3 separate regions of the Homo sapiens genome follow, and regions 1 and 3 are each linked to region 2. The links come from fine-mapping of genetic effects on plasma protein levels. A gene starts in region 2. Each other region holds a variant in brackets. All regions are shown on one strand. Distances are from middle to middle.

Region 1 (7,391 bases), 19 kb before region 2:
AGAGGAAGGTCAGATCCATTTTACAAAGGGAAAGTCATTACATTTCTATGAAATTGAATTCCACCTCATTGTTACTCAAACTATAAGATGCTGAATTGTTAGTCTTATAATCTGCTCTTAAGCAAGCCTGTGCGCTGAGCTATGCCTTTCTCTGCATCCTCAGGAAAGTGAGGCCCTGGGGTGGAGGAGAAAAAAAAGATCTCCCCCAGGGGAAGGGGCTGATGGAAACCACGTGAAGCCCAGCTCACTCCCTCTATATTCCTTCTACATCCCTAGAATGTTCGAAGATGCAGATAGCTTGGGTGTTAGGCAGACATATTATTAGATGCCATAGTTGGCCCTGCCTAGGTTCCTGTAGAAGTGTAACAGCAACAGCAGCAGCTGTTTTTGCAGGACTTATTATGTGCCGGGCACTGAATTTTATTTATTTATTTATCTTTCCTCAGAGACCTTTGTTCTGAGTGAGTTTTAGATATATGACATGATCTTGCTTATTCCTCTCAATAGTTTTTTTGTTTGTTTGTTTGTTTTGAGACAGAGTTTTGCTCTTGTTGCCCAGGCTGGAGTGCAATGGCATGATCTTGGCTCACTGCAACCTCTGCCTCCTAGGTTCAAGAGATTCTCCTGCTTCAGCCTCCCGAGTAGCTGGGATTACAGGCACCTGCCACCACTCCTGGCTAATTTTTGTATTTTTAGTAGAGATGGGGTTTCACCATGTTGGCCAGGCTGGTCTCAAACTCCTGACTTCAGGTGATCAACCGCCTCAGCCTCCCAAAGTGCTGAAATTACAGGTATGAGCCACAGCACCCAGCCTCTCTCAATAGCTTTTTGAAGAAAGTAACATTACCCCAGTTTAACAGATGACAAATCAGGGAGAGAGATTAACGAGTCCAGGTCATACAAGCAGCCAGGGGTGGAGCTGGGACTTGAACAGAAGAGGTTTGACTCATCTGTCCTTGATGCTGGGCTACCTGCCATTGCTGTCCTGACCGCTATCTCATGGCAGCCTTCTTAGATGGAGAGACCAGGCTCTGATGCTGGACTCATGGGGCGGGGCCTGGGATGGGGACAGTCCCCCTTCTCACCAGCCAGGCCTCTCGCAGCAGCTTCACTCCCTGGGTCAGCTTTCACTGTTTTCTGCCACCCTCACCCTCATTCTGGTCCTCTCCCCAAGGTGGAGAGCTTCTTAGCTCTTCTCTTCTACCAAATAAGGCCACATCTTCATACCACTTCATTCTCCTGATTAATTTATGTATCTACACACACATATATTTTAATCAGGTAATTTATATATTATATGCAAATGATTTGCTAATGTATATTTAGTTAATCGATATAGTATTTATATATTCATTCATTTATATTTAGTTTATTACATATGGTCATGACCAAATCATAGGAAACCAAATTATATAATGCATTGGAAAGAGCTTTGTAAATTCTAAAGAGAGAGGATTATCAGGCGTTGCTATTAATGTTAGCATAGACAACTACCTGGGAGCTTAAGAGCACTCCTGTGAGCTGCTCTCTCCTGGCCACCAGCATTCCATTGGTAGGCAAGTTTTGTGATCACTGGTGGCCTCAGTTGCCTCATCTGCAAAATGGGGAGGCTCATACGATTGTTGTGAGGATTCAATATGAGAACAGGTATAAGGTGTTAAAAAATTCAGTTAAGTGTTCAAACAGTTATCATAATTATTATTCAACTTAATTGTTAAAGCTTTCTCAATTGCTCAACTGTAGCAAAACATGTGTGTGCTTGATAGCACCTCCTAGGGACCTTCCTGTCTAGGGTTACCAGTAAATAGGAATTCAAATCAATAGGAATTCAAATCAACTTAAAAGGGGTAACTGGTGGTCAATGCCTTTGTTCAGACTTGAGGTCCTCAGTTGACCCACCCATGCCTCTGTCGGAGATAATATACTCACCTCCCTTGGCAGGTCACGACAAAGTCTATTAGGGAGCTTTCAGGCCATGGCACCGGCATCAGGACGTCTGTCATCTGGATGATGTTAACCTCTAAGATTCCCTCTAACAAAATAACCCCCAGAGAAAAACACATCAAAATACAACAGAAATCAAACAAAGCCAAACAATCACTCTGGTATAGATTGAATGTTTGTGTCCCTCCGAAATTCATATGTTGAAACCCCCAAGGTGATAGCATTAGGAGGGGGGTCTTTGGGAGGTAGTTAGGTCATGAGGGTGAAGCCTTCATGTGTGAGATTAATGCCCTTATGAAAGTGACCCCAGAGAGCCCTTTTGCCTCTTCCACCACATGAGGACACAGCAAGAAGACTGCTATCTGCCATCTATGAACCAGGAAGTGAGTCCTCACCAGCCACCGAATGTGCTGGTACCTTGAACTTGGACTTCCCAGCCTTTAGAACTACGAGAAATAAATTCCTGCTGTTGGTTTATAAGCCACCCAGTCTATGGAATTCTGTTATAGAAGCCTGAATGGACTAAGGTACAGCTCTTAAGACATCAGAAAGTGAAAAAAATTAAAAAAGGAAGACAGCCCTCTTGCCATACAGAAACACATCAGATCTGGCAATCTACCCCCATAGCTTAGGATACATATCCATGCAGCATTTCCAAAGTCAAACTGAACTGTTTTTCAGTCCAGCCTAGATTTTTGTTCCTAGAGCCTTTGTGTGCATCAGAAAGTAGCACTCCATCTTGGAAAGTGTTTCAGGAAAAGGTAATCCTGGGTAGACGCAGCCCCAGGCTCAGGCCTTGGCCAGCTTCTCAAGTGGCTTGGACTCAGGGGACACTGCTTGGGCTTCCACCTCCATCCTCACTCCCAGAACTGGTGAGCACAGGTTGGGCTTCAGTTCCCCTCTGTCTTCTCTGTTGTATGCCTTAGGGCTGTGCCCAAATGCACAGCCATGTGTGGTGGCCTGCTCTTTCCCCTTTTCACATACAAGTCTGACTTTGTGAAAATTAACTAGGGGAAGACAGTGGAAGTTGTAGGAACTCGATGCTAGCCTTCCTTTACCCTACATACCCCATTCAGATGGCTGGGCTGCAGAGGCGGGATACAGGCCCAGGGCAGGCTCATTAGCATGCGGCCTTCACAGAAGGCTTGTTTCCACCAGGATGTGGAAGGAAGGCCGGGGAGGCAGGTGGGAATCTAGAAATGAATGGGGTCTTTGCTCTTGCATGTGTGGTGTCATCTTAGACAAGCAGAGGGGTGCCCTTACCACCTACCTCTACCCCTTCAGAGTTAGCAGAGAGAGTGGGTGACCCTAGGTGGAGTCTAGCATCCTTCCTCACTGGTCATCATCTTCAGCCTTACCTACAATTGTGATGGTGGCTTGAAAGTGGCCATATCTGTTAATCTGGCAGTTTTCATCAGGAATCCTACTCAGCTCCAGGGGGTTGTCACCAG[C/T]AGGTCCTGGGGTGTTTGAATCATAAGATTTTAGAGTAGTTGCTACGAACATAAAAGATACATGTGATATAATAAAAAATCTAAACATTTGCCATTTGCTTTTTAGAAAAATATCAGGAACACTATACTATGAAATTGCTATAGAAATTTGAACTAAATGTGTCATAATTTACACAGATGTGAGAGCTATAAGGTATTATAATTGCTAAATTATGTAAGGAAGCATAATCCCACATTTTGTGTGAACACAAGAAGCAAATAAGACGTTGAAACTGGCCGGGTGCAGTGGCTCATGCCTGTAATCCCAGCACTTTGGGAGGCCGAGGGGGGCAGATCATGAGGTCAGGAGATCGAGCCCATCCTGACTAACATGGTGAAACCCCGCCTCTACTAAAAAATACAAAAAATTAGCCAGGTGTGGTGGTGGGCGCCTGTAGTCCCAGCTACTCAGGAGGCTGAGGCAGGAGAATGGCGTGAAACTGGGAGGCGGAGCTTGCAGTGAGCCGAGATGGCGCCACTGTACTCCAGCCTGGGTGACAGAGCGAGACTCCGTCTCAAAAAAAGGTTGAAACTGTATTAAAATGTGTGATACAATGGTCATGAAGAAATAAACCTGGCCATACTAGATGCAGTTATATTTTAATTTTGGAAGCAGGTATTCTGGGCTCAAATTCCAGCTTCCCTTGTTTTTAGCTGTTTGAGACCACAGGCACATCATTTAATCTGTTTTTGCCTCTATTTGCTCATCTGTAAAATAAGAACAATACCTGCTGTCCTCTGGGGGCTGAACTATGAAACTTAAATGAGATAAAGTATATAAAACCTGCTGCTCATCACTGCTGCAGAGGGAGTACTTAATAAATCACAGTTTCTTTCTTTCAGTAATATGGGAAAAGATCATTCTTTCCCTGTTTGGATGTCTCACAGCTCCAAAGCTTAAATTCTAAAAGTCTTACTGTGATGAGCAGAGATGTGAGGAAGGAAAGGAGGGAATACAAGACATTTTTGAAAAATAAGCCTTGAATATAATTAGAGCAAAGAATCTAATGCCCTATTAGTTACAATTTAACAGGCTCTAATTAAGACATCGCTGCTCCTTTAGCAAGATAAAAAATCTAGAAAGAAAATAACGATACTGAAAATACAATCTTCTTTTTAATTTCAAAAGACATGTGAAGTAGACTCAGTCTTGGGGAAGGACATCAAAGCCTCATAAGAGCTGCATCTCTAACTTAGTGACATGTGAGTGAAGCAGGCTGGGAGATTTCCCCAGGGCTTCTCAGAATCGTCAGCGGGTGAACATCCCTGTGATTTTCCTGTGCCCAAAGCAGATTTCTCAGAGCAGTTCTCAGAACAGGTCTAGAAATGACTGCTCCATGGCACACACTTTGGGAAATGCTGCTCAGGTAAAGGCCAGAAAGGCCCAGACACTGTGTTAGATCGAATGCAGTGGTTTACCAGCAGGAAGAACTGTGGCAGCCTCTTGGGAATGTCCCTTGAGTTTCATATTAGTCCTCTGGAAATGACAAGACAGTCGTTCTGTCTGTCCTGAGATTCAGATGATCTACTCTACAGCAATAGGATTGTTTGTGCAGGCCATTCGAGTTCAGTAGCTCTTCTCCAGAAAACCATAAAATTTCTTCTTTTGAAAGTTCTTGACAGGCAGAATTTAGTTGTCAAGTTAGAGCATGGAATCACGACCCTGCATATTTTAAAATAAAACTTCTCTTGTTCTGCATATACTTTAGTGCTAAAAATGAAATAAAGCTTATTTTCTTAAAAAATGACCAAATAATAAAAGTCAGTGATTCTACCTTAGATAGAATGCTTTTAAAATGCATATGGAGGCCAGGCATGGTGGCTCACACCTGTAATCCCAGCACTTTGGGAGGCTGAGGTAGGTGGATCACTTGAGGTCAGGAGTTCGAGACCAACCTGGGCAACATGGTGGAACCTAGTCTCCATTAAAAATAAAGAAAAATTATCTGGGCATGGTGGTTCACATGCCTGTAGTGCTGGCTACTAGGGAGGCCGAAGCAGGAGAATTACTTGAACCCAGAAGGCAGAGGTTGCAGTGAGCTGAGATTGCACTACTGCACTCCAGCCTGGGCAACAGAGCAAGACTCTATCTCAAAAAAAAAATAAAAATAAAAATAAAAAAGCATATGGAGCTTCGCAAACATTGTGTCTATAAAGTCAAGGTATGATTCAAGGGCTAATGGAGAGAAACGCACACCTTAAAAGACAGATGAGAAAGAAGGTCAACTTCATCCTTAATTTGGTATTTATGTCCCTGTTGCCCAGAGAACGGTGTGAGAGCTCTTGATTCTCTGGGAAAGTTCTCTATGATATGATGTTATTTTATATATAGAGAGAGTATTACAGTAATTAGCATCAGTCTTACAAAAGGTTTTTTTTTTTTTTTTCAGATTTGTTCACAAGTCTGAAAAACAAATAATAGCACTGTTAGCTAAGTGAAGAGAATTCCGTGACTTAAAAATAGCACACATGCATCTGCCCTCAGATTTAAACACATCTACCTGGGTCACCTCTTCAACTGGCTTCTGCCTCACTCCTGCATTTGCATTTGATTTCTATTTTCGGCTGTGCATTATTAAGAAGCCACTTACCAAAGCAGAGAGAACATATTTTTTGGCCAAACAATAATATAATACTTGGTCATCCAAGCCCTTTAATATGGCCTGTACAGCTGGAAATGCTCCCTAGAAGAGACCCCTTTTAGAAACGTCCCTCCTCGCTCTCCCTAAGAGAGATGCTGGTTTAAGGCATTTTGGGGTTGATTATGATTGATCTAACACCTTTAGATAAAGCCAGGCAGCTTTCCTTCGCAATAAAACTTAACTAACTTGTAGGGGTTGCTAGTTTATATCTTTTTTTTTTTTTTTTTTTGAGACAGAGTTTCTCTCTTGTCGCCCAGGCTGGAGTGCAATGGCGCGATCTCGGCTCACTGCAACCTCCACCTCCCAGGTTCAAGCGATTCTTCTGCCTCAGCCTCCCAAGTAGCTGGGATTACAGACACTCTCCACCACACCCGGCTAATTTTTATATTTTCGGTAGAGACGGGGTTTCACCATGTTGACCAGGCTGGTCTCGAACTCCTGACCTCAGGTGATCCACCTGCCTCGGCCTCCCAAAGTGCTGGGATTACAGATGTGAGCCACCATGCCTGGCCCACTAGTTTATATCTTATGGTGTCACCTAGGGAGAAATTACAACAGAAATTTTAAATAGCTTTTCATTGGCTTCAAATATATTTTTAAAACATGCTATGATATAAATAGTTTATAAGAAAAACAAGCTAGTTTAATAAAAATGCAATTCAAAGTAGACTAACATTAAACAACCTAACATTAAGTCTTTTACCATTCTGGAACTTAAATATTAAAAGCATCTGTAATTTATTTTGAATTTTATACCTGGTCCTCTTATTTGTAAAGAAGATCATTAATAGTTGTAGATAAAAAAAATTGCTTCTCCTAAAGGATTACTAGAATGAAGCTGTATATTTAAAGTTGTTCAATACAGTTATAATTGTAGTTGGAATTAGGATTAATCTAATCATCCATCAATAAGAGAATGGTGGGCCGGGCACAGTGCCTCACGCTTATAATCCCAGCACTTTGGAAGGCTGGGGTGGGTAGATCACCTGTGCTCAAGAGTTGGAGACCAGCCTGGGCAACACGGCGAAACCCCATCTCTACTAAAAAATAAAAAAATTAGCTGGGTGTGGTTGTGTATGCCTGTAGCCACAGCCACTTGGGAGGCTGAGGCAGAAGGATCACTTGAGTCCAGGAGGTGGAGGTTGCAGTGAGCCAAGATTGTGCCACTGCACTCCAGCCTGGGTGTTAGAGCAAGACGCTGTCTCAAAAAAAAAAAAAAAAAAAAAAAAAAAAGAGAATGGTGAAATAAATGACAGTACATACATTCTATGAAACACTATGCAGCCACTGGATAAAGTGAGATAGACTTATATGT
Region 2 (7,391 bases):
GGACAAGGACAAGTTCTTTCCACTGTTCCAGAGAGTCTTCCTCTTCCTCAGATCTTGAAAGAAAGTTATTGTTTCCAGGAACATAATCAAAACGCAGATTTCTCTTCCGATTTTAAATGTCAGAAGCCCAGGAAAAGTATAAACTTAAAAGGAGAGTTACAAGGGATAGGCACATAGGTCAATGGAATAGAAGAGAGAATCCAGAAATAGACCCACACAAGCATGCTCTACTAATTTTTTTTTTTTTGAAGAGATGGGGGTCCCACTATGTTGCTCAGGCTGGACTCAAACTCCTGGGCTCAAGTGATCTACCTGCCCCAGCCTTCCGATTAGCTAGGACCACGGGCAAGCACTACAGTGCCTGGCTTGATTTTGGACAAAGATGCAAAAACAAGCCAATGGAGGGAAGATAGCCTTTTCAACATATGGTGCTGTAAAAAAGCAAAAAGCATAGGTGAAATCTTCAGGATCTAGGACTAGGCAAGAATTCTTAGACTTGACATGAACACAACCCGTAACAGGAAATTGGAACTCATTAAAATAAAAAACCTTTGCTCTCTGAAACATGACATGAAAGAGGATGAAAAGGCAAGCTACAGACTGGGAGAAATTATTTGTAAACTACACTTCCAATAAAGGACTAGTATTTAGAATATATAAAGAATTTTCAAAACTCACTATAAGAAAACCACGGGATTCAATTAGAAAAATTGGTAAAAATTAATGAAATGATATTTCACCATTTCATTCATCTCATGGCAAATAAACACACAAGAAGATATTCAACATCATTAGCCAGTAGTGAAATATCACTATATCCCTATCAGTAAGACCTAACTAAAAAGCAGTGACAACATCAAATGCTTGCAAGGATGTAGAGAAACTGGATTGCTCACACATTACTAGTGGAAATGTAAAATGGTACAGCCACTCTGTTAGTTTCTTGCAAAACTAAACATGCAACTATCATACAACCAAGAAATTGTACCCTTTGGCATGCATCCCAGAGAAACAAAACTGATATTCTCACAGAGATCTGCACATGAATATTTATAGCAGCTTTATTCATAATAGCCCAAATTGAAATAACCCAGATGTCCTTTAATGGGTGAATGGTTAAGCAAACTGTGGTACATCCATACCATGGAATACTACTCTGTGACAAAGAGGAACAAACTATTGATGCAGTTACTTCAATAAATCAATAAAGTTCCAGGAAATTATGTTGGGTTTTAAAAAAAGCAAATCTCAAAAGGTTACATACTGGATAATTCCATTTGTATAGAATTTTGGAAATTACAAAATGATAAAAATGGAAACCAGATTAGTGGTTGCCAGGGACTGGGTGAGGTTTGGAAAGAGGGAAGTAGATTTGGCTATACATCTATAGCCATGAGAATACTTTGGTGATGGAGCTCTGCTGTGTTTTCACTGTATCAATGTCAATATCTGGGCTGTGATGTCCTGTTTTGCATGATGATACCACTGGGGCAAACCAGGTAAAGGGTGCATGGGGATCTCTCTGTATTATTTCTTACAACAGTATGTGAATCTATAAATACCTCACAATAAAAAGTTGAATTTAAAAATAAAGGCCGGATGCAATGGCTCATGCCTGTAATCCCAACACTTTGGAAGGCTGAGGGTGGGCGATTGCCTGAGCCCAGGAGTTCCAGACCAGCCTGGGCAACATGGCAAAACCCTGTCTCTACAAAAATTTAAAAAATAAAATAAACCCATCCGGATAAGGTGGCTCATGCCTGTAGTCCTAGCATTCTGGGAGGCCAAGGGAGGACTGAGCCCAGAAGTTTGAGGCCAGCCTGGGCAATGTAGTAAGATCCCATTTCTACAAAAAATACAAAAATTATCTGGGTGTGGTGGCACGTGCCTGTGGTCCCAGCTACTCAGGAGGCTGAGGTGGAAGATCACCTTTAGCCCAGGAGTTGGAGGCTGCAGTGAGCTGTGATCACACCACTGCACTCCAGCCTGGGTGAGAGTAAGACCCTGTCTCTAAAAAAATTGATTAAAAAAAAAAAAACCCAATAGTAAGCAGATTTTAAAAGAAAAATAAAAGCCTGTGGGGGTGGGTTTTGGGGGCAATCAATGTGAAGGTAAATTTGAGGTCGCACCCAGTGCTGCAGCCGACTCTGCCTCCACACTTTGGCATCCTTGCTGTGTCCACCAGCAGAGAGGTGGTGGCTGGGCTGCCTCCACCTACCTTGTCCACACTTTCTCCTTCCTTCAGGGCTACGAATGGAAAATGGTAGGAAATCTTTAGTGCTTGATACACTGCTACATTCTGCCTGCCCTTATTTTTTTCTGGGCAGAATATTTAGTCCAGAGCAAGGTGAACCTGGTGAATGGCTGGGTTTTGTTACACTGCCCAAGAGGCTGAGGACTCCTCTCGAGCTGACAGCGCTGATTCGGCCTCCTGCTAATCTGTTTTATTGAGCAGAGCGAAGTGGACTGGTGAAAGAGGGTGGAATAATAGCAGGTGTCCCCCATCGGGTCTATTCTGTGTTCCTTCGTCTTTAAAGTAGCCTGTCCTGGGAGGTATCCTGAGGGTGGGTGCAGGTCTGCCTCCGTAGGAACAATCCCCACCATGCACGTCTCTCACGCCAAGCAGCTGATCTCACAAGAACACAATTACCCAGTTTTGCAAATGAGGAAACGAAAACTCCTCGTTTTGAAGGAAATGAGGAAATGGAGCAAAGCCACTGGAGACCCAGCCCCTAGGCTGGCGGGGAGCCCGAGCCTGTCCAACCCCAAACCCGGGCAGGAAGGACAGAGGTCGGGATGGAAGGCTGCCTCCTCAACTTACCCGCTGTGTGGCTTGGGGCGAGTTCCTTGCCCACTCTGTGGCCCGTGGCCTCGTGTGGGAAGCGGGACCATCACAGTGCCGGGCTCCGCGGGCTGCTAGGAGGACGCGCGGCGCACTGCGGGCCGGGAACGTGCTGCGCGCTGACACCGGGTCAGCTCCCTGTGATGGGACTTCCTTTCCAAAAACGTAGGCGTTTTCCCGGGTCGCAGTCGCAGTCGGGAGACTGAGGGTTAGGGCGCGGCCGCGGGGTCTCCTGGGCCGGGGCGCGGCCCACGTCTCAGGCCTCTGCGGCTCTGACCAGAAGCCGCTGCGCCTTTGGCCGCTTCCCACCCGTCCCGTCCCCGCAATCCCAGGCCCAGGGTTACAGCGGCTCAGCTCTCTTCCTCTCGCGAATCTGCACACTGCTTCAGTGGTCTGGACCCTGGCTGCATAGGCAGATCCCAAGAGGAACTTTTAAAACAAGGATCCTCTGACCCCACTCCCAAAGATTCCGGTTTCATTGCGTGGGTATCAGTATTGTTAAAAATGCCCTGGCCTCTCCTGCCTGACCAGGGTAGAGAGCCTGGGCTTCAGCTCCTCTCCCAGCAAGCTCCTGCAGGTCTGTGAGGAAGCCCCGCAGGAGGAGCAATAGCTTCAGGGCTGGGGAGATTCGTAAATTTGCCTCCAGATTGGAGACCCCATTTCATGTGAGGTCTCCACCCTTTTGGATGGAAGCTGGACATAGTTTAGTTGGTGGAGTTGCTTTGTTCTGTGGCCGGAGGCTGTCCAACCCTCCCCCAACCACTGTCTGGCAAGAATGGGTTGCAATTGCAATGGAAAAGAAGCTTCACAAGAGAAGGGCAGCATAGTTTTTACTTTCCATGAGCCGAAAGCAAAGAATGGAGCTGGAGGCATTTTGCTGTAGTTTCAGCCTTCCCAACAGTTTGCAGAAGAAGAGATGAGTGAGCCAGAGATGAAAGCTTCCTGAAGAACTTCAGTCCAACCTCTAGTTCAGAGGATATTATTAGCCATCATTTCAGCCAATGGCCAGAGAATGGGTTAAACATAGAAATTAAGGGTTACTCACGTTTGGCGGCATCAAGTGGCAATCTTGCAGCCAGGAGCAGAAATCCCAGGAAATAGTAGAGACATTCCATGCTGAATTCTCACGGACGCAGGCACTCAAGGTTTAACTCTGAATTCCTCTGGGCCCGTCCACCAAGAGCAACAGTGTTCTTCTGGCATCTGTGGTGCCTCCCTCTCTATTTTAATTAAATACAGGGCCTCGGGGAGGATCATGTGATGGTATTAAGCGGCACTGCCTGATCTGGTCTCTCAAGTTCAACCTCTTACAACTCATGTGCTTATGACTCACTCCTTCTTGGCATCTATTTATTCACTTTTCAGATGCACATTATTTCAATTTTGTGATTCCACATTTACTAGATTCAAGGAGTTTTTTTCCTATAGACTCTATTTCAATATTCATTTTTTTTTTTTGAGATGGAGTCTCACACTGTCTCCCAGGCTGGAGTGCAATGGCACGATCTCAGCTCACTGCAACTTCCACCTCCCAGGTTCAAGCCATTCTCCTGCCTCAGCCTCCTGAGTAGCTGGAATTACAGGTGCCCGCCACCATGCCCGGCTAATTTTTTGTATTTTTAGTAGAGGCAGGTTTCACTATGTTGGCCAGGCTGGTCTCGATCTCCTGACCTTGTGATCTGCCCGCCTCGGCTTCCCAAAGTGCTGGGATTACAGGCATGAGCCACCGCGCCTGGCTCAATATTCTTTACCAAATAAAATTTCAATCCTCCAGCCTCACTGATTATCGACTTACTGTGGTTCCTATACTGCATCAGGCACCCAGCTCACGTTTAGAGTTCACAGTTACGCACCCTTTCCTAAGATGTAGTTGTCCACCTGCTCCTGTGCTCGTGATTGCTTGTATATTTTTTTCCTCCAAGAGGAAGCAAAGATGGGGGAGGTGTCTTATCAATCATTTGAAATTGTGGAATACATAAGTGGATGATAACATGAATGTTGTGCCAGGATGTGCTGGAAACAGCTGCCCAGGCCTCTGGTAGCTGAGAAATTTACTCAAAAGCACATTTAGAATATCTGTGCAATTCCATATAACTTTTGTAATAACCTGCATAATTTTTGGTAACTGCTCTCAAAGCATTTATGTGTTGCATTACTCAGAGCCAATTGCATAAAACGTTCTGTGTATTTTTTCATATTATAGAAAGCAGGCATTAAATGTACAAACAAGTGTGTCTGTAAGATAAATTTATACAGTCAAATCATTCCTGGTTACAGAGTATGCAGAAAATGTGGCAACATGAAAACTTTACCATATGTGACCTTTCTCAAACTCACATTCACATGGCCATTTTCAGTGCAGTAGAAACCTTGGTTGCAGGTGAGGGTAAAACTTGGGGTATTGATTTATGGTTCAGTGTGTCAAGGAGGAATGGAAATAGCCTATGAAACTAAAATCCATACAGCAGGAGTGGCTGACTTCCATCCCTAAGGCGGCAAACAACTCTGTAGAGTGCCTTTTACAGCCTTTGCAGCAAATATGAAGGGGAAAACAACGAAAGGAACACATTATTCATGACTGAAACAATTTTCAAATATTGATGAATAAAGGAATAATGGAAATACTTATTAGTTTCATGTAATGTAAAGCGAATAATGTATATAGTTATTTGCTTTTTAAATTACTTAAAAACTTTTTTTTTTTTTTTTTTTAGAGACAGGCTCTCACTCTGTTGCCCAGGCCGGAGTGCAGTGGCATGATTATAGCTCATTGCAGCCTTGAACTCCTAGGCTCAAGTGATCCTCCCACCTCAGCCTTCCAAGTAGGTAGGACTACAGGCACACACCACCACACTCGGCTAATTTTTTATTTGCTTTTTATTTTTTGTAGAGACAAAAATCTCACTATGCTGCCCAGGCTGGTCTTGAACTCCTGGCCTCAAGTGATCTTCCCACCTCAGCTGCCTACAGCACTATTTGCTTTTTATGACAAACACATAACTTTTACAATTAAAAAAAAACACCTTTTCAATTTAAGGAAAAGCTACTATTAACATTTTTAAAGATATTTTTGTCCTTTGTTGCAGACACAGTTCTGGCTCATATTTCTAGCCAGATTAGCCACCCCGTCTCTAAATAAATTGGAAGTGTTAAATTCTTCTGTAACAAAACCTTCGTTTTGTTTAGGGAGACACAATGATCAAATCAACTTTTATGTCTTTTTTCCTTCCCTGCACCATCAAAGAGAAGAGGCACTGATAGGACAAGAGTCAAAATGTAGGCAGCTGGACAGAGGTGAATAAGAGAACAAGAGAAAGATCTTCATTCCAAAGAACTACAAGTTGGATAATCTGTTTCTTGATAATCAATGGTTGATAATATATAAAGTAGTTAACTCTATGTAGGACTCAGAGACAGGGCCATTTTGGGTAAAGAATATTCTCAAGCCTGTTTGTTTGTTTTGGAAAGATAAAATTATACTGTAAAGAAAGTTTGAAATATTTTGTTGAAATAATTTTTTGAGCTGGTGTACTGATGTGTACCTGAAGTCCCAGTGACTTCAGAGGCTGAAGCGGGAAGATTGCTTAAGCCCAGGAGTTTGAGTCCAGCCTGGGCAATGTAGTGAGACTTCATCTCTTAAGAAAGAAAGAAAGAAAAAGAAAGAAAAGAAAGAAAGAAGGAAGGAAAGAAAGAGAAAGAAAGGAAAGAAAGAAAGAGAAAGAAAGAAAGAAAGAAAGAAAGAAAGAAAGAAAGAAAGAAAGAAAGAAAAGACAAGAAAAGAAAAGAAAAGAAAAAAGAAAAGAAAGAAAAATTGTTCCGTTCAGATCCTAATTGCCAGGTCTGGTAAATATATTATATGGCTGGGGGGATGAAGGTTGCTAATCAACTCGCCTTAAGGCAATTGAGAAATGAAAAGGGAAACATCTCAATTATCTGGAATTACAGATACAATTACTCTGTTCGGAAATGATGTGGAGGAAAGCAAAGAATAGTCAACTTTTTTTTTTTTTTTTTTTTTTTTTTTTGAGGCGGAGTCTCGCTGTCGCCCAGGCTGGAGTGCAGTGGCGCGATCTCGGCTCACTGCAGGCTCCGCCCCCCAGGGTTCACGCCATTCTCCTGCCTCAGCCTCCCGCGTAGCTGGGGCTACAGGCGACCACCACCTCGCCCGGCTAATTTTTTGTATTTTTAGTAGCGACGGGGTTTCACCGTGTTAGCCAGAATGGTCTCGATCTCCTGACCTCGTGATCCGCCCGTCTCGGCCTCCCAAAGTGCTGGGATTACAGGCGTGAGCCACCGCGCCCGACCAGAATAGTCAACTTTTGAGAAATGCCCCAAATTGCCTTCTCTTGGCTTCTGACACTCCTCCTGGTGGCCACAGTCCCGACTTGAGGAGCGATGCTTGAGCTGTGAGGACTGAGGCAGCCACCCCAAAGGAGACCTTCGAAATGGCAGGCAGCAGGCACACCCAGGAATCCCGGCAGGCTGCCAAGGAATTCACATCTTTAATTTTAGGAACTGCTCAGTTTAAACTGGTATTTGAACTGTCTCC
Region 3 (7,391 bases), 88 kb before region 2:
GAACTTGTGTCCCACTTAAATAAATAAAAATCTCAGTGGGAGCAGGTGGAAGCTCAAAAATGTGTAGTTTCATAAAGGTCATCAGGAGTTTTATGCTACCCGTTTATTGTCAGGAACTGTTCTTTTCAAGAGATGGGGACTCACTATGTTGCCCAGGCTGGAATTGAACTCCTGGGTGCAAGTGATCCTCCCACCTCTGACTCCCAAGTAGCTGGGACTACAGGCACACACCATCACGCCCAGCTAAGAACTTCTGTTCTACAAAGAATGTTTACTAGTCTTTGGAGGGGCGCTTCAATGTTGAAAAGAACAGTTTCTATCAGTACCAATTGCAAGGGAGAAAAAGTTCAGGATAAGCACAAATACATACTAGTTGTGTATATCCCTTTTTCTACCTTGTTCTATGCTTTGAAGAGTGAAAAAAAACTCACCTCTTTCTCTCTGGACCACCTGCCATCCCAACTCGTAGGAAATATCATGCCAAAAACCTCTGTGGGATGTTGCCGTTATGTCTGTTTTTACCCTTCTAACTCTATTTTGGCATACTACATGTATCAGGATTAGGTTTGGGTATGTATTGTTACTAGAAAAAAAAATGGCTTAAATTCGTTTTCCTTTTTCATGAGAAGAGTTCAAGGGTAGACAATCCAAGGCTGGAAGTGGTTCCACCATATCCTTCAGGACTGGTGCTTCTATCTGCCTTGTGTGCCATTCCCTGGCCCAGGATAACTGCTCAAGCTCCAACTATTGGGTCTGTTTCCAGCCAACAAGAAGGATAAAGGATTGCTGGATGTGGTGACAGACACCTGTAGTCCCAGCTACTGGGGAGGCGGAGGTGGGAGGATTGCTTGAGCCCAGGAATTTCAGTCCAGCCTGGGCAATGTGGTGAGACCTCATTTCAAACTGAAAAAAGGATAAAGGATCAAAATTGGCAGCATCCTTATTTAAGGACACTGCCTGAGGATAGCTTTTCATACTTCTGTTTGCCTCATGTTGGCCAGAACATACCACTGGCTGTGTCTAGCTGCAAGAGAAGCTGGGAGACAATCCCTGTGTGAGGGCAGCAATGTGCCCATTAAACACAGGATCTGTTACTAAAGGAAAATACATGTTGGGGACAGCTATTTGTCTGCTTCACTGGATTTGGCACTATTGCCTGTTAAAGGAGCCTCCCAGAGCCTGGAAGAGAGGAAGCAAGCTTTTAAGTTCTCTCAAAAAGCAGAATCTAAATTCTGGAGGAGAAAATTCCATATTCCAGATTCCCATTCCTGTGGTTATTTTCATCTAAATAAAGAGAAAACACCATTATTCAGAAAATCATATTGTCCCTGGATACAATTAGAGTAAATTCTACTTTCAAACAGCTGCTAGGCAATTTTCTGGCTTAATGTTCAGGGGAACAATTCTTTAACAAGTGTTGTTTGAGTATATAACTTCAAGTTGCAGGGGGTGGGGGGTGGTTGCAAGTACTCAGTTGGAATAGCTTTGCCTTCACTATTTTTAGACTTTGTTCTTTTTCTAAACCGAAATCACTAATACTTAACTATTTTGTGTACCTAGTGGTCACCACTTTTTGAAATACAAATAAACTATTGTTTTTAAAGGCAGTAAATTTCCCAAAGCTTTACCAGTTTCTTTGCTTATCATTGCTTCTTTTTTTTTTTTCTTTTGGAGACAGAGTCTTGCCCTGTCACCCAGGGTGGAGTGTGGTGGCGCAATCTCGGTTCACTGCAAACTCCGCATCCTGGGTTCAAGTGATTCTCATACCTCAGCCTCCCGAGTAGCTGGGATTACAAGTGCGCAGCACCATGCCTGGTTAATTTTTGTATTTTTATTAGAGACAGGGTTTTACCATGTTTGCCAGGCTGGTCTCGAATTCCTGACCTCAAGTGATCCACCCATCTCGGCCTCCCAAAGTGCTGGGATTACAGACGTGAGCCACTGCAGCCGGCCTATTCTTTAGCAAGAAAAATGAAGCCAAAAAGAAGCAATGATAACAACCAGGCGTTGCGATGAGCCGAGGAGGTGGAGGTTGCAATGAGCCGAGATCGTGCCACTGCACTCCCGCCTGGGTGACTAAGCAAGACTCTGTCTCAAAAAAAAAGAAGAGAAAAAAAGAACATACTGTTTTATGTTTGTGAGGGTCTATGATGTTATTTAAAAAAAAAAAAAAATGGTTTAGAAAGTTAAAGATGGACGGGCATTTTGCTCTCAGCACTTTTAAACTGTTCCTGAACTGCATTCTGGTATCTATACTTGCTGATGAGAAGCTTGCTGTTCCTTTGAAGCTATCACAGATTACGTACTAAGATCGTGTTTATCCTTGATGTCTTGTAGGTTAACAGTGAACTTCTGCTTTTATTTTAAATGTATATTGCCTGTCAAGAAGTAGGTTTTGATGGCTAAATGTTTCAAATAATTTTTTTTTTTTAATATATACTACTTCCTTTTTCTTTTAGAATTGTTGCATTTCTCTACTCATGTTTTCTCATTCCTGCTTTGTAGCATGAAAGTAGAAATGATGCATCTCTTCTTTGGATAAATCCCTTGCCTCTATTCCATTCTAGAACTTTGCCTACTAGTTCCCCCACAATATTCTCTTCTTCCCAGAACTTGCCAGGTTGAGTCTCCCCAGAGCCAAAGAGTTGGTTCTTCCAACAGACAAAAAGTCTCTAGTTCCTGCCTAGCAGCTGGCTCGTACAGTACTTAACTGGCAAACTTCGAGTTTATAAATGACAGGAAACGCGCCTTTCAGAAATGCTCAAACAGTAGGGAAGAAGGAATTGGCAGCTAGTGAAGCAGAGCAAGAGCTGGAATTGGCATAGTGCGTGTCGCCTTAGCTGGATGGTCTTGGCAGCATACAGTTGGATTGGCAGAAGTAATCCCAAGGGCTGCTGGCTTCAGTTTTGATAGCCTCTTTGGAGTCTTCTCAGAAGTCTCCAAAATGATAGTGTAATCTTAAAATGGCTAGCTTTCTGCTTATGAAAGAGGCAAGAGAGATTAGCACTTTTTTAGGCTTAAGGTACTCTTTAAGAAACAAAGGGCCAGGCGCGGTGGTTTATGCCTGTAATCCCAGCACTTTGGGAGGCCAAGGTAAGAGGATTGCTTGAGATCAGGCTGGGCAACATAGGGAGAACTCTGTCTCTACAAAAAAAAAAAAACTTTTTTAGATTAGCCGGGGGTGGTGGCCTTTGCCTATCCCAGCTACTTGGAAGGCTAAAGTAGGAAGATCACCTGAGCCCAGGGAGGTCAAGGCTGCAGTGATCCGTGATTGAGCCACTGCACTCCAGCCTGGGTGACAGAGTGAGACCTTGTCCAAAAAAAAAAAAATTATGAGTTGGAAGGAATTTTTTAAATCAGATGAGTGTTTCAGGGAGTCTCTTAGTCTTCCTCCTTAAGATTTCTCACAGTGGGTGCAACTCTTTTGTTGGTAAACAATTTCTAAGTAAGTAACTCACTGTGCACATTTATTATCTCTGAGAAGCCTTGGTTATCTAGTTATGGTGAAAAACTTTCTTTGCCTTTTTTTTTTTTTTTTTTTTTTTAATGTTAAAGACTTCAATATTTTGTTCAGGTCATGGAGTTGAGTAAACTTAGTTTCAGTTCCAGACCAAAATCCATTTAAAAACAACAACAAAAAAACCCAGGAGTATCTATTTTACAAGCCAAAGGGAAACCGTGGCATCCTTCCAGGTACCTGGAGGCTGATCATGTTGGCTGACATGCATGTCTCCATGCCTTTGTGATGTCTTAGATTTTGTCCCCCACAAAGTAAATACACTTAACCTTACTGTTTGCTCATACTTGTATGTCTTCACGATAGATGATTAGGAATTACTCATTGGCAGACTTCACCAGTTATGCAAACTTTCAGTTGAGCAGCTTTGTTCTTCTGTTATTTCAAGCCGTAGTTGAGAGTCTGCCAAGAAGTCCAAAGGAAGTTTTGCCGATAGGCATCTGGCACAAATCCATTGGGAAGCAGCTTATGTCCTGTGAACATCCTTCAGTCCCAAAGAATGTATCCAAGAAAAGGTTCAGACAATGCAACTAGACCTTAACTTAAATGGAAGGAATGTGTAACAAGACTGGGTAACGCTAATGGGCCTTTTCCAACCTAGGTCTCATAGACTTAAATTCAGGTGAAAAAGGCTTATAACTTTTGCTCTGCCTGCTGAGTTTTGCAAGTAAAAATTTAAATTATCTGCCTATTTGGGGTGTCCAAATCCTGACACAGGCTTGTTCTAGCATAGGCTTATTTTAGTCTCGATTTCTTTTCTTTTTTATTTTTTGAGACAGAGTCTCGCTCTGTTGCCCAGGCTCTGGAGTGCAGTGTCATGATCTTGGCTCACTGTAACCTCCACCTCCCAGATTCGAGCGATTCTCCTGCCTCAGCCTCCTGAGTAGCTGGAATTACAGTCACGTGCCCAGCTAATTTTTGTACTTTTAGTAGAGATGGGGTTTCATCATATCAGCCCAGCTGGTCTCGAACTCCTGACCTCAAGGGATCCGCCCGCCTCAGCCTTCCAAAGTGCTGGGAGTACAGGCGTGAACCACAGCACCCGGCTCATGGCTTATTCTGAATCCCATATAAGAATGAAGTGTACCAGAGAGCCAATTTAATGATTGGCAAAAGTTGACAGCATATTTATGTGAGCTGCCTTACATTCCCAGAGGAAAATTTTCTTGAAAAGTAATCTTTGGTTAAGAAGATGCTTCATGGATAGGAAA[T/C]TGGAGCAAAGGGAATTGGACGACGTTCAGAAATGTCTTCACCAAGCCTCAGACATCTGATGAGTCAACTTTTCTTCAAGACATGATTGCCAACAGCACACATCATTGTCTGTCATTCTAGGGCAGCATCTCCTGGTGTGGAAAAACACTTAGTTTGCTTCTAACTCTGCTGCTTCTATTTGACAAGTTCTGTTGCTTCTGTTTTCATTCCAGGATAGGACATTTTAAAGTCTACACATTGATTCTTCATGTATGTGCCCTTTTTTTCTGTTACATTTTGGTCCTTTTGACCCTTATCTACTGGCCACTATTCCTTTTCCAAAGCTTCACACAACATTTCTCTTAAGTTTATGCTTAAGCTTCATTTTGGGTTTGTTATTTCTCATCAGCAAAACAAGAACATGGACAGCCCTTCATCACTATGTCAGAAAGATAACTTTGTTTTTGTTTCTCACAACAGCAGCCTTGGACGTGTTCCAGGCTAAGACACATGCATGTTCGGGCCAGGCTTTCACTCTGAGGAGGATGCTGCTACATTAGTGTTCTCTGGGGATATTTAGGAATTGCTCTCTGAAACCAGTACCAGGAATAGTCATTTTTTAATAAGTAAATGAATAGTTTTTCTCTCATAGTCATGGGAAATCATGCAACTAACTTTTTAAAAAATTAGCTGCGAGGAAGCTTAAAGCCAGATTTGTATAACAGCATTTTTGGCTTCATCTTATCTTGAGTGTTCAGTTCCCTATGCTCTTATTTCTTCACCTCCTTTGTTTTATCTTTACAGATTATGTGTATTTTATAAGCAGCATAAAATTCTTTTTGGAACAAAGCCCAGGAAACAAATAATTACACAGTCATGACAAAATACTGTGGGGTAAATCTGGGAAAGTTACACATTAGGTTTAGTTTGACCATTGAAAAGGTCTTTATCACCACCAGCTTCCCCCAAGTATATTGTTCAGAAGAACATAATACGGACATTCTTAGTGAGATAAAATATTTAGATCCCACCCTTAATTTTTTTTAAAATGGTCAAGATTAACTTAATGGTCTTGATACAAGGACCAGAATGATGAAGTAATGCTAACATTGAGCACAGTTGATAGTCAGTGTTGGCATTAATTCACTTGGTCTATCCAGTTATAAAATAAAAAAGGCCATAAAGGGATAAATGACACATGGTAATTGTGTGACACACTGGGGGCTGTGAGTTATATAGTATCTTCCAAAGAGAGATGCTGTTCTTCTGACTTAAATAGTGAAGAATGAAATAATTTTATTTTGTGTTCTTTGTTGGTGAAGAGAAACAGAAGTGATCTGGCCAAGCTGTGCAGGACAGGCCCCTAACACAAATCTCCACATAATAGTTTAGTAGGAAGGCAAGTCTTCTTCTGATGTATGTGTTCTAAAAATGCTGAATAGCCAGAAGGGAGATTTCATTTAGCTAACAGCTATATTAATACTTGCAGTGTGTTACATTATCCTAGAAAACATGGAGTATGCCAGAGAACTTTGCCAAGTTGTAAACAATATGGTACAAATTTAGTACATCTGTTTATACAGGTGCTGAAGAAACAAATGATTAGAGATGGGTGGGTGATTAGAGATGATGAATTGAATTTTGGGTTAACTCTTACATAAATAAGAGGTACATGATGGGGATTGAAGATATAAAGGAAGAGACAATAGAGTTTAAGTGATTTTCATTTGTAGGAAACTAGTTGATATGGTTTGGCTGTGTCCCCACCCAAATCTCATCTTGAATTGTAATTCCCACTTGTCAGTGGGAGGTGATTGGATCATGGGGGCGGATTTCCCCCTTGCTGTTCTTGTGATAGTGAGTTCTCATGAAATCTAAGGGTTTAAAGGTGTGACACTTGCCCCATCCCTTACTCTCTCTCTCTCCCTCCTGCCGCCAAGTAAGACGTACCTTGTTACCCATTTGTCTTCCGCCACGATTGTAAGTTTTTTGAGGCCTGCCCAGCCAACTGAGTCAATTAAACTCCTTTTTTTTTTCTTTTTTTTTTTTTTCTGAGACAGTTTCGCTCTGTCACCCAGGCTGGAGTGCAGTGGCACAATCTCAGCTCACTGCAACCTCTGCCTCCCAGGTTCAAGCAGTTCTCCTGCCTCAGCCTCCCGAGTAGCTGGGACTACAGGCACACGCCACCACGCCCAGCTAATTTTTGTATTTTCAGTAGAGACGGGGTTTCACCATGTTGCCCAGGTTGGTCTCGAACTCCTGACCTCAGGTGATCCACCCACCTTGGCCTTCCAAAGTGTTAGGATTACAGGGGTGAGTCTAAACTCCTTTTCTTTATAAATTACCCATTCTTGGGTAGTTCTTTTTTTGTTTGTTTTTTGTTTTTGTTTTTGAGACAGAGTCTCACTCTGTCTCATCTGTACACACCCATCTTATGCACGTTTAAGATACTTTGCAACTTAAAAGTTTCAATTCCTTTATCTTCACCTGACAGTTATTTAGCTATATCTGAAGGTGCTTTATAAAGATTTTCAGAAAGTTCAGTTTTCCATTTTTCACTAATTCATGTAATGATGCAATCAAATTTTTAAACATAAACTTCTGTGCCTTGGTACAAATACTTCTAAGAATTTATGTAATAGAACTTCTAAGTCAAAGAGCACAAACTTTTAAAATTGACAGA

Alleles and levels. Alleles are on the strand shown, and positions count from the first base shown. The strength of an association depends on the size of the effect and on how common the allele is. Not every link is listed here.
For the plasma level of the protein whose gene starts at base 4,040 in region 2, C is the low allele of the variant in region 3 and T is the other (moderate association).

Evidence for each region. PIP is the posterior inclusion probability: the model's chance that the variant is causal. The UK Biobank Pharma Proteomics Project read protein levels with antibody pairs (Olink). The fine-mapping took linkage between variants from a reference panel, not from the people measured, so its PIPs are less certain.
Region 1: its variant is fine-mapped to the plasma level of the GPNMB protein (UK Biobank, PIP above 0.99). The variant lies in the coding sequence of GPNMB. If it changes the protein, the assay may bind it differently, which can mimic a change of level.
Region 3: its variant is fine-mapped to the plasma level of the GPNMB protein (UK Biobank, PIP above 0.99).

Annotation. Positions count from the first base shown.
Region 1 is chr7:23,262,527-23,269,917 of GRCh38, reverse strand. GPNMB (glycoprotein nmb) reads right to left here. Exons shown (of 11, transcript NM_002510.3): 7 at 3,303-3,401; 8 at 1,930-2,032. Among named protein-coding and RNA genes, the nearest start is that of GPNMB, 19 kb to the right of the region's middle. The variant C/T (reference allele first, on the strand shown) is at 3,396.
Region 2 is chr7:23,243,424-23,250,814 of GRCh38, reverse strand. GPNMB (glycoprotein nmb) reads right to left here and starts at 4,040. Exons shown (of 11, transcript NM_002510.3): 1 at 3,888-4,040. The coding sequence starts at 3,957. RefSeq lists an enhancer at 2,469-2,588.
Region 3 is chr7:23,331,228-23,338,618 of GRCh38, reverse strand. The region is part of intron 10 of IGF2BP3 (insulin like growth factor 2 mRNA binding protein 3); the gene reads left to right. Among named protein-coding and RNA genes, the nearest start is that of MALSU1, 36 kb to the right of the region's middle. RefSeq lists a silencer at 2,655-2,949. The variant T/C (reference allele first, on the strand shown) is at 4,729.